Regions from separate parts of the Homo sapiens genome. Here region 2 is reported to be linked to region 1. The links are microRNA targets in miRTarBase. Many come from high-throughput screens and were not tested one by one. Region 1 holds a microRNA gene; the other region holds the end of a gene's coding sequence.

Evidence for each region. Region 1 holds the annotated microRNA hsa-miR-4757-5p (AGGCCUCUGUGACGUCACGGUGU, at 2,566-2,588, opposite strand). A microRNA usually pairs through its seed, bases 2 to 8, with sites in the 3' UTR of a target mRNA and lowers its output. Matches are read on the target gene's strand: a 7mer-m8 pairs with bases 2 to 8, a 7mer-A1 pairs with bases 2 to 7 and ends in A, and an 8mer does both.
Region 2: the mRNA of TMEM184A is a reported target of hsa-miR-4757-5p. Seed matches in the 3' UTR shown: 7mer-m8 at 2,613-2,619 and 7mer-A1 at 3,469-3,475.

What each region holds. Positions count from the first base shown.
Region 1 is chr2:19,345,854-19,351,026 of GRCh38, reverse strand. MIR4757 (microRNA 4757) reads right to left here and starts at 2,598; the gene lies at 2,522-2,598. It also overlaps a transcript of OSR1 not described here. RefSeq lists enhancers at 448-517, 2,841-2,970, 3,021-3,290, 3,441-3,500.
Region 2 is chr7:1,542,359-1,547,358 of GRCh38, reverse strand. TMEM184A (transmembrane protein 184A) reads left to right here. Exons shown (of 9, transcript NM_001097620.2): 9 at 178-5,000. The coding sequence ends at 407. It overlaps MAFK (MAF bZIP transcription factor K), which reads right to left. Exons shown (of 3, transcript NM_002360.4): 3 at 4,316-5,000. Among named protein-coding and RNA genes, the nearest start is that of TMEM184A, 11 kb to the left of the region's middle. RefSeq lists an enhancer at 2,790-2,939.

The DNA.
Region 1 (5,173 bases):
AGAGCCTCAGAGCTGTAATATTTCCCGTTCCCCGGGTCTCAACACTCGGGTGCAAATACACAATGACCGCTGCCTCCCCGGAACCCCAAACCAACATCACTCCCTCCCTTAGGGTCCCTCAGACACAATTCTCTGCTTGGGACTTGTCCCCTCCTAGGATCGAGGCTCTGCACCCGCGAAGATTCCCTACAATTTTAAAGCCTTGTCAGGAATGGTGGGGGCGGGCGCCCTGGGAGGCCCGGGACGCTTAGGAGGAAAAATTCGAGTCCGCCTTCCATAAGCTGAACCTTCCCTGGGGTGTCTAGTTTTCCCACAGTTAGAAGCCAGGCCGCCGGGGCTCTTCTCCTTGGGGCAAGGCGGGGCTCCCCCCAGCTCCAGCGCCCTGACCGCGGGACCGCGCAGGCGGTGGCGCCCGCGGCCTTTCCCAAGCGCAGGATGGCCTCTCCAGCTTCAGCGCCCGGAGCGCGGCGGCCGCGGATGACAACTGGACTATAAGCTTCCCTGCTGCAGGCACCAAAAATCCCAGCCTCAAGCCGGGCCCTGCTGGCTGAGAAAGCGGCAGGGGATGCAGAAGTTAAAACGCTCTGGGCTTTCACCACCCCATCCCCACCTCCTCCGGGAACGCTCCTGAGTCCTGTGCGGGCTAGAACTTCGAGGCCCGGGAACCCAACTGGGCACTGGAGGCTGGCCCTGCCGGCGCGGACCAGCCCTGGCCTCCACGCTCAGAGCCACGCTGCCCCCTGCTGGCCAGCCCTGGAGGGGCGGCCCAGGACTTGGCACCTCAAGGGGTCTTGCCCGCAACCTCGCGAAACCACCAAGCATCTATGTGTTTGGTCCCAAAATCTTGACTGGCCCCAGGACCCACTGTGGATGAGGGGCAGGGCGCTGCTGAGTCTGGTCTGGTCTGAGGGATCTTCATTAGTTGGGCACTATCCCAATCCTTCTTCCAAGCAGTTCACAAGGTCGCGCGCGGCCCAGGATTATGCCCCCATTCCTGAGAACTGGGGCCTCTGAGTGCGTGGAAGTGGGGCTAGCCAGTAGGTTTGCGGGTGGTGTAGACGGTCTGCGCCCAAGCGGCGCACGCAGGTTGTGGTGTGGTTTGTGCCTGACCATAGCTTGTACTAGGGTCAACTGCAGAATCTTCCTTGGTTTCTTTATGAAGCCCCAGGAGGCTGCGGGCCATGGTTGCTCCAAAACAACCAGAGTGCATGGGTGAACACACACACACACAGGGTGCCCTTCCTAGTCCCTTGGCTCTTTCTGGGATGCTATCCTTGGGGTTGTCTATGGCTGCTCTTCCCTAGCCCCTGACATCCCTCCACCTCCCAGAACACATCATTCCACCTCCCTGAAGATCGAGCCTCTGCAGTTCCCGGGGCCTCAGGAAGCTACAAATGCGGTGAAATGGGGAGGTTTGCCAGCCACGTTAATCCTTTTTGGGTCACCCCACCTCCAGCACTGTGAAAACCCACCCAGTCCAAGGTCTGCAACTGAATGTCAGTATCAAGTGTGCATCCTCAAAATAACAGATTTCCAGTGCAGAATTTTAAATTGGGGATGGGGAATGGAGGGTGGGACAGGATGATGCGCAGCAACTCCCTGGCCCTCTCAGAATGCCCCTATTTGCTCTACTGATGTTTGCTGTTATCCCGGTGGACTCAGAGATCACGTCTCCCTGCAGCTTGTTCTAGTGATTCATAGACTGTGCAGAAACAGTAACTACAGGTGGAAAGGCCGGCTGGGCCTGTGGGCCATCCGACCCTATCCAGGCTACAATTCCCAGGTGATGTGGTTGGTTGATGTGGTTGGAAACTAGTGCCCCAGTTTCCTGCTCATACTCAGTGTGGGTTGCACAAAAAGTGCAATTGAGAGGGTCAGAAATGTTGGGTGGGTTTCCTTGCCTGCCCCAATTTTTCCCCCAATGCATCTCTAGAAAGTCCCAGCTCTTGTCTCCTCTCCAGACCCCCATCACAATAAGCTTCGCTGGTCCCAGTGACTGTGTGGCGCTCAGCGTTGCTGGGGCTATTTTTCAGGAGAAAAAGAGGCCGATGGTGCTGGCCAGGTGGAGTTCAGCTGGGGCCCTTCTCAAAGCTGCTAGGCCTGAAGTTTTTGTGTACGGCTGGGGAAGCTATCTGGCCTAGGACAGCCTCTTGGGCAGGGAGGGCGGAAGGTGCCAGAGACCCTGGGCACAGCCCGGAACTGCCAGATGCTGTCTCCGGTAAGATATCAGGTGCTTCCAGGGAAAAGAACAGCTTGCAGGAGCTTCTTCCTGGGAGAGAGTGTTTCAGGTTCTACCCCCTATTTCCAGAGTGTAGTTAGGGGTTAGGGACCCACTAAAAAATGTTTTCCCGCGTACTTCCTTGCCGCGGAATTCACTGCTCACATTGTGGGGAGGGACGCAATGTGATGCTCTGGGACTCCCTGACGTGACCTCAGCTCCCAGAACCTGAGGACCTGATATCCTAAATCCCCTAGAATCTTGGTGTCCCCATAGCCGGCTCAAAAGAGTCCCGTCCCACCTCTCAGAGCGCGAAGCCTCTGTGACGTCATGGTCTCCTCCCGCAGACACCGTGACGTCACAGAGGCCTCGGGCTGGAACACAAGGCTTGAATGAGGTCCACAGAGGCATTCCATTACGTAACTTCGTGACGTCACAGATGGGCCCCGCCTCGGGCTAACATATCCACACCTCTCAGCCCCGCCCCGCCCCGCCCCGCGAATCGGCCCAGGCAGGCGCCACGAATCGGTTCGTCTCCACTAACACGATCCGCAGACCCGAAGCGTTGGCAGCTGTCCTGAGTGAAGGGCGGTGCCCTGCAGCGTCCTCTTCTTGAATCAGTGGTTTAGAGTGGTCTCCCTGCCCGCGGGGTTTCAGGGCAGCAGTTGCCGCGGCGTACTCATCCCACCCACTTCTGCGCCCACTATGGCCGCGCCCACTGCGGCCCCGCCCTCCTCTCCCACTGCGCAAGCGCCACGCGCAGGCGCAAAAGGAACTCGCAGGCCAGTGCTGCTGGTGCCGGAGTCCGGAAGCTGACGGCGGTGCGTGGAAATCGTCGCGGAGTTCAGTGTTTTGCTTTTGGGGATCACAAACTCAGGGGCACACTGGCCCGGCGGGCGCATCCAGCCGTTGGCGTATGTGTGGGCAGAAAATGCAGACGAGAAAGTGGGTGGCGCTTGGCTAATGCGGGCTGGAGCCCTTGACTTGGAGTGCCCAGTCCAGCGCCGCGGTCCTACAGAGGCCCCTGGGATCTGAGCTGGCGAGGGTGGCGCGGCGGGTCCTACCCAAGGCCAGAAAGTTCGCTGCGGTCCCAGCTCTTTTGGGCAGCCTCTCTGAGGTAGAGCTCTCAGACGGTCTTCAGCCCGGTGGAACGCCCTGGTGTCCCACTCCACCCGTTCATCCCGACTTCCTGGGCCGTCTCTAGAGCCCAGTTGGTAGTTGGGCCCAGTTGGCATATGTTTCAGATGAAAAATTCATTACGGACTTGAGATGCTAGGTTGGAGACAAATCTCATGTCAGTGGCAGAGAAAGAATTCGAAGCTGTGCTTTCATTGAGGGGAAGGGCCAGAAGACCCAGCTCTAGGTTTTTCTGACAAGCACAAGTTTTGGGGAAGTCCCTGTGCTTCACTAGCCTCAGTTTTCTTCCTATAATGGGGGTAGGGCTTTTCCTACCTACCTCATTCACTTTGTGTAGAGTTAAAAGTAATACACATTTTGCCAATAATGTATTCACTGCTTGAACCAAAAACTACCCTAATGTGTTGTAGAACAACTTTGGCATGTATGAAGGCCTTGTAAATGTTGATGATGATGATGCTTAGAAATGCCTCTCAGCATTTTGACGTAGCCTGCCTCCCAACCTACTGTATTCCCAGGAGATACCACCCCCATCTTTATTATAACAGAGGCATCCTGAAATGAAATGAGAGAGGAAGAATATCACTGAACTGGTGGACTTCTTGAAACCCCCGGCAAAAAGCCTTTTTTCAATGACGTAGGGAGCAATGGATTAATCAGTTCACAAATTGTTATGTTTGGTTGGGATGATGTGTCATGGCCCTATGTCAGAGCGCTACTCACCACACGTTTGTGGAACCCAGGGAGTTAAAAAACAACCTATGGCGACTGAGGTGTGGAGCTGGGGAAGGAGCCTATGTACGTATGTGGCAAGTGTGACTGCAAAGATAGGGAAGTGCTTAAACACAGGCTTGCAGAGTGAAAGCTTCCTTGTGGATTTGTGTTTTCTTATGATTGATTGATTGAAACAAGTTCTCCCTCAGTTGCCTAGGCTGGATTGCAGCGGTGCGATCAGGACTCATTGCATCCTCAACCTCCCCGACTCAAGCAGTCCTCCCACCTCAGCCTCCTGAGTAGCAAGGCTACAGGTGTGTGCCACCACGTCTGGTAATTTTTTCTACTTTTTTTGTGTAGAGACGAGCTCTTGCTATGTTGCTTAGACTGGTCTTGAACTCCTGGTCTCAAGTGATCCTCCCACCTTGGCCTCCCAAAGTGCTGGGATTACAGGCGTGAGGCACCATGCCTGACCCATTTGTTTTCTTTGACTTGTGTTAGAGCATCCTAGTCTAAAGAAAAAGTGGCCACACAATGTTCTTTATGTGGACTTCTGCAGGAATGGTCCTCTCACCCAGTCACCCAGTCCTGGCAATTTGCTGCCATTTTTTTTGGTCATTTTTCCTGGCTAAGTCTAGTTCCAGCTCCAGAGATTAGAATATGAAAGGATTAACCCCCCAAAATGGGATGGAGGGATGAATGAGTTGAAAGTTTTTGTTTCCCTTTTCCAAACACTGAGTTGGCTCTCATCAGCACAGCTGTCTCTGGGGATGTATAAAGCGTAATTAATACATTTTAAATGTTTGGTTTCAACTTTTTTTGCTAGTGAGATAAGATAAGGAGTTTTTGTCATGACAAGGGAAGGGGTGGATTTCTTTCTATCATTTGCAGGAGTGGGTACCACTTGGATCCTGTAGGTAGACAGTTGCATGAGATGATAAACTTTATAGGGGGCATGGAAGAAAGCCAGTGGAGATGGGGAAGGAATGGCTAGACTCTTTAGCTTCCTGACAACCAGAGGGGGAAAATGAACTTCCAGAGAATTTGGGTTTTGCCTTAAATATTGAAATTTGCTTGGGCATTTGGTCCACTTCTTAATTAACC
Region 2 (5,000 bases), not on the chromosome of region 1:
GCCCGGTGCTGGGTGGAGCAAGCTGGGCTGGGGTCCAGGGGTCTGGGGCCACCCTCTGCTGGCCGAGGCCAGACCTGGACATGCAGGAGCTACAGCCCTGGGCATCCTGGGAGGGGACTTGTCCGGGGAGCTGGAGTGCAGGGGGGATGGTGGGGCTCATACACTGCCCTCCCCCAGCCCCCCCGGCACCCATGCAGAGCATCTCCAGCGGCATCAGGGAGACAGTGAGCCCCCAGGACATCGTGCAGGACGCCATCCACAACTTCTCCCCCGCCTACCAGCACTACACGCAGCAGGCCACGCACGAGGCGCCCAGGCCCGGCACCCACCCCAGCGGCGGCTCCGGCGGGAGCAGGAAGAGCCGGAGCCTGGAGAAGCGGATGCTGATCCCCTCGGAGGACCTGTAGGGGGGCCTGGGCTGCCAGTGCTGTAGGGACCCAGGCTGCCCAGGCCTCTGGGGAAGAACAGGGTCCCCCCACCCACCAACTCCTGCCAAAGGTGGGGCCTCTCCTGAGAGCCCACCTGTGAGGCCCTCGGAGCCCACTTCCCATCCTCCCTCCAGCCAGGGGGTCAGGGCACCTGATGGCCCTGGCAGGCACCCAGGTGGGCCCGCCACCGCAGGAGAGGGCACCTGAGCCAATCGGAAGAGCCTGGGGACCCCCTGGGATCACCCAGCCATCAGCCCCAGGAGCCACTGTGGGGCGGAGAGTGAGTGTGGCTGCGGGGCCTTGGCTGCACGGACCCCATGGGAGCTGTGAGTGGGTCAGACTCCCTGGTTCAGGAGACAGACAGCGGACGGATCCCAGGCTGGGCAGCTGGAGGGAGGGGCGCCGGGGCGCTGGGCAGCCGGGCTCTGACACAGTCAGCAGCTCCGGGCGCCGCAGGCCGGCGGGGTCCACACAGGCTGGCCGGGGCTGGGCCTCCTTGGAGCCTGCTACGGCCCTCGTGGGCACGTGGAGAAGGGCCCACGTGTCTCCACACGCCAGCCACAGGGGAGCCCTGGCCAGGCGCCCAGCCAGGGGAGCGTGTGCCTGGGATGGGTCACAGAACCAGCGGGCACCTGTGAGGCTGGCCAGCACCGTGGGGCTGTGGGAATCGCTCTTATTTATATTTAAACACCTTGGATTTTCTACCGGGTCTTGGCTTCTGTTCCCGCAGGGCATGAGCCTGAGGAGCAGGACGCGGTGGGGGTCACAGGAGGCTGCTGCTCAGAGTCTGCATGCGGGAAAGGGGTCCCACCTGTCTGGGGTGGGCAGCCTCGTGGTCCAGGGCAGTGCAGGGCAGAGCCTGGGCTGTGCGATCACAGCCACTGCCTTTCTCCTGGGAGCCTCCACTTCCTCCAAAACGGGCCTTGTGCCAGCCCCACCCGCGGCGAGCGGACAAGGCCACGAAGGCAGGGCCCTGAGTACCTGGGCGGGGGGGACACTCCCAGGGGGCACAGAGGGGGCTCCCACCTGGGCACCTGCCTCCTGCCCTTCTCTTCTTCCTCCACGTGCCAGGTGGGGCCCTGGGTTTGAGGAGCCTCGGACGCGTGCCCTGCCCGCAGGAAGCTGGAGGCGTGCAAGTGGCCTCGGAAATCGCGGCCGCAAGAACAGTAGCCGCCCAGGGACTAAGGGGGCTTCTGGGAGGACACACGGCTGGCCCAGGGCGAGGGGTGTCACTGCAGGGCGCCCCCCAGGCCCAGGGCCCGTCAGGGGACAGTACGGTGACCCGGCCTGCAGGTGGCAGTCAGTTCTGTGTGTCTGGGGCCCGCAGCACAGGTTGGGTGGGGGCTGGGGCAGGGGCAGCAGAAGTGGGCAAGGCCTGGGGGGCTCAGGCACTGGGCGTGGAGAGCAGACAGGAAGCTCCAGTGGGCACCACCCCGGGACCGCGGCTCCCACCCGTGCTGCCCCCCACCCATGGCCACGGTCACCAGGAACAGCGGGACCTGGGGTCTCCGAGGGACTCAGCAGGGCGGGCACAGACCAGTGGAGTCCGGGCTAGAGAGGGCCAGCTCCCAGCCTCTTGCTTCCTGGGCTGAGGACATGGGGATCCAAGGCCAGTGGGTCTGCAGGGCCCAGCCCGGCTGCCTGATAAGATAGGCTGAGCTCCTCCCTGCACGGCTGCAAAGACGCCCACCTGTCTTATTGGATCCCCACAGGAATAGACCCACCAGGCGGCCCCCGTGTCTCACTCTGTCAGCAGGTCCCCAGGGACCTGCTGCCGAGGGGCAGTTTCTGGAGGCTGGGGGCACTGGCTGGGCTCTAGGCCTGCTCTGCCCTTGCCGTGGGGAAGGCCACCCCGATAGGGGTCAAGTTGCTCAAATCTGCGTTTGGAGGGTGTGTGGCCGAGGGCTCCCTTTCTGGAGACCCAGACACCGCCTGGGCTCCGGGCGGCAGAGGCTGAGGTGTCAGGGGCTGAGCCCCTATGTCAGCAACACCTCAGGCCTGCACTTTAGGACAGGGGAGAAGTCAGTTTCCGCCAAATGCCCCCTCAGACCAGCCGAGGACTGTGCCAGGAAACTGACATGCTCAACGCTCAAGCCAGCTGGGACAGCGACCGAGCCCAGAGAGACGGAGCAAGTTGCCTGAGGTCACAGAGCAGGGACTTGGACACCAGGCAGCCGGCTCCACAGAGGCCCTCTCTCCTCCCTGCCTCCTGACCCTCAGACGCCTCCGCCCCACGGGTGAGGCTGCTTCTGCTTCTTTCCAACACGACTCGAAGGAAAGCCCTGAGGGCCGAGCCCGCTCTGCGTGGACGGAAGGCAGCGTGGGGCGGTCCAGGCCGGGGCTCAACCTGCCTCGAGGGGGAGCGTGGGCGCATGTGAGCGGGAGGGACGGAGACTAGCGTGGTTCCAGTGTCGTCATCGCTGCTAAAAAAGGGGTTTCCCGGTGACAGGCCCCGACAGAGGAGCAGGCCATGAGGCAGGCAGGAGCCGCGTATCTGGGCCCAGCGCACCCGCCAAGCTCTCTAGCCTCTCCTGGCCTCAGTATCCTTCTCTGGGAGATGGTCCAGCTGAAAATCCCCAGCATCCACAAGAAACGGTGGAAGCCCTGGGGGCCCTGGCCTGGCCCGGGTGCAGGCTGCATGGCCGGGCGGGGCGGTGTCTCCTTTCACAGCTTCCCCGTCTGTCCGCAGCCTCCAGGAGCCCCACACAGGGCTGGGGCTCTGTGCCCCCAACTCACACCCGTCGGCTCCCCCAGGAGGAGCAGGCTGGGCCCAGAGCCGCAGGGTGGGCTGCAGGGAGGTCTGACTTAGCTGGGGAAAGTGCCATCCCTGCCATTGCTAGTGACAAGCTCGGGCTGCTGTGGCCCCAGCACAGATTCAACACTCACTGCGCTATGTGCCAGCTGTTGCACACTCACCTCCACACCCAACTCACAGGAAGCAAGGCTGGGAAGGAGGGAACTGGCCCCAGGCCACACAGATGCTGCGAGTTGGGATTATGATCGGGTGCAGTGGCTCACACCTGTAATTCCAGCACTTGGGGAGGCCAAGGCGAGTGGATTGCTTGAGCCCAGGAGTCTGAGACCAGCCTGGGCAACATGGTGAAACCCCATCTCTACAAAAAAAAAATACAAAAATTAGCTGGGCGTGGTGGTGCGTGCCGGCGGTCCCAGCTACTCAGGAGGCTGAGATGGGAGGATTGCTTGAGCCTGGGAGGTCGAGGCTGCAGTGAACTGTGATCACGCCCCTGCACTCCAGCTTGGGTGACAAAGCAAGATACTGTCTCAAAAAACTCGAGTTGGGATTTCACCCTGCGTGGTCCAGCACTGAACAGCGTTCACACCTCGGTCAGCTCAGCCCCAAAAACGGGGAAGGCCGGGCGGGGTGGGGACGGCATGCGGGCAGGCCCGTGGCTTTTCGGAGGAGTCCACGGGCTTCCGGCCACTGTGCAGGGGCGCTTTGCTCTCTGCTCCCAGACAGACCCTGTCTTGCTCACAGCTTCCTGCAGGCTCCTCTGAGAGTCCAGCAAAGCTGGGCGAGATGTCTCCCAGGGAAGGGGAACACTGACAGCCGTGCTGCTCTCTGCTCCTTCCACTGGAAGGGAGAGGCTGCATGGACAGGGGGCTCCGGGTGGGGCAGATGGGGACACTCAGGACTGCGGCCTGACCCTCAGAGACTGAGCCCAGGACGTGGTCACCTGACCAGCACCTCCCCCGTGGCTGTCCCAGCCTCACGGTCACGGCCCAGCAGTCCGGGAAAGCCACTTACACGTAGTGCCCGGATCCTGACCCCGGTGAGGGACAGGCAGGGTCCCCTGGGATTGGGGGGGGGGTGTGGTTCTTGGCCCAAGAAAGCCCCAGCTGAAAGCACCAGCTACGCAACGAAAGGGTCTGAAACCAGAAAATTCTTTATTGCAAAGGTACAAAAGCAGTCACAGCAGCAGGACGCACGGCAATAAATTAGGTGGTGGCCGCAGGGACGGGGCAGGGCGGCGGCGGCCAGACACGGGCCCACATGTGATCTGTTTTCAATAATTTATATCATGATAAAAAGCAGCACAAAAAATAAATAATGAAATGGAACTGCCAAGTAGCACAGAAGCCAGGGTGAGGCGGTGTGGCGGCGTGGCGGCATAGGGGGCCGGGGTCCCCACGCCCTGGAAACGCAAAGACCTGGATCTCTTTGGGAAGCCGGAGGCACGGAGACAGAAAACAAACCCACGTGACAAAGAGTCCCTCGTCTTTTTCTTAAATAAAAAAATCCATATATTAAATCATGACAATGAAATTTCAACAATCTGAAAAGAAAAGCAGAACACACCGTGCTTCCCCGGCCCAGCTCTGGGCGGTGACAGCGGCTCCGTCCACCCTGGGGACCAGGGAGTCCCTTCTCCAGCAAAGCACTGCAGGCCAAGGGCAGGTAGAAGCCCACGGCCCACAAGACGTGGACACCAAGAACCCCAAGACGGGACAGAACCGGCCACCCGCTGCGGCCTGTCCTGCGGGGCCCAGCTGCCTGGTACAGTCCGTGGGGAGATGAAGGGGGACGGCGGGCAGCCCGGGCCTCCGCTTTGC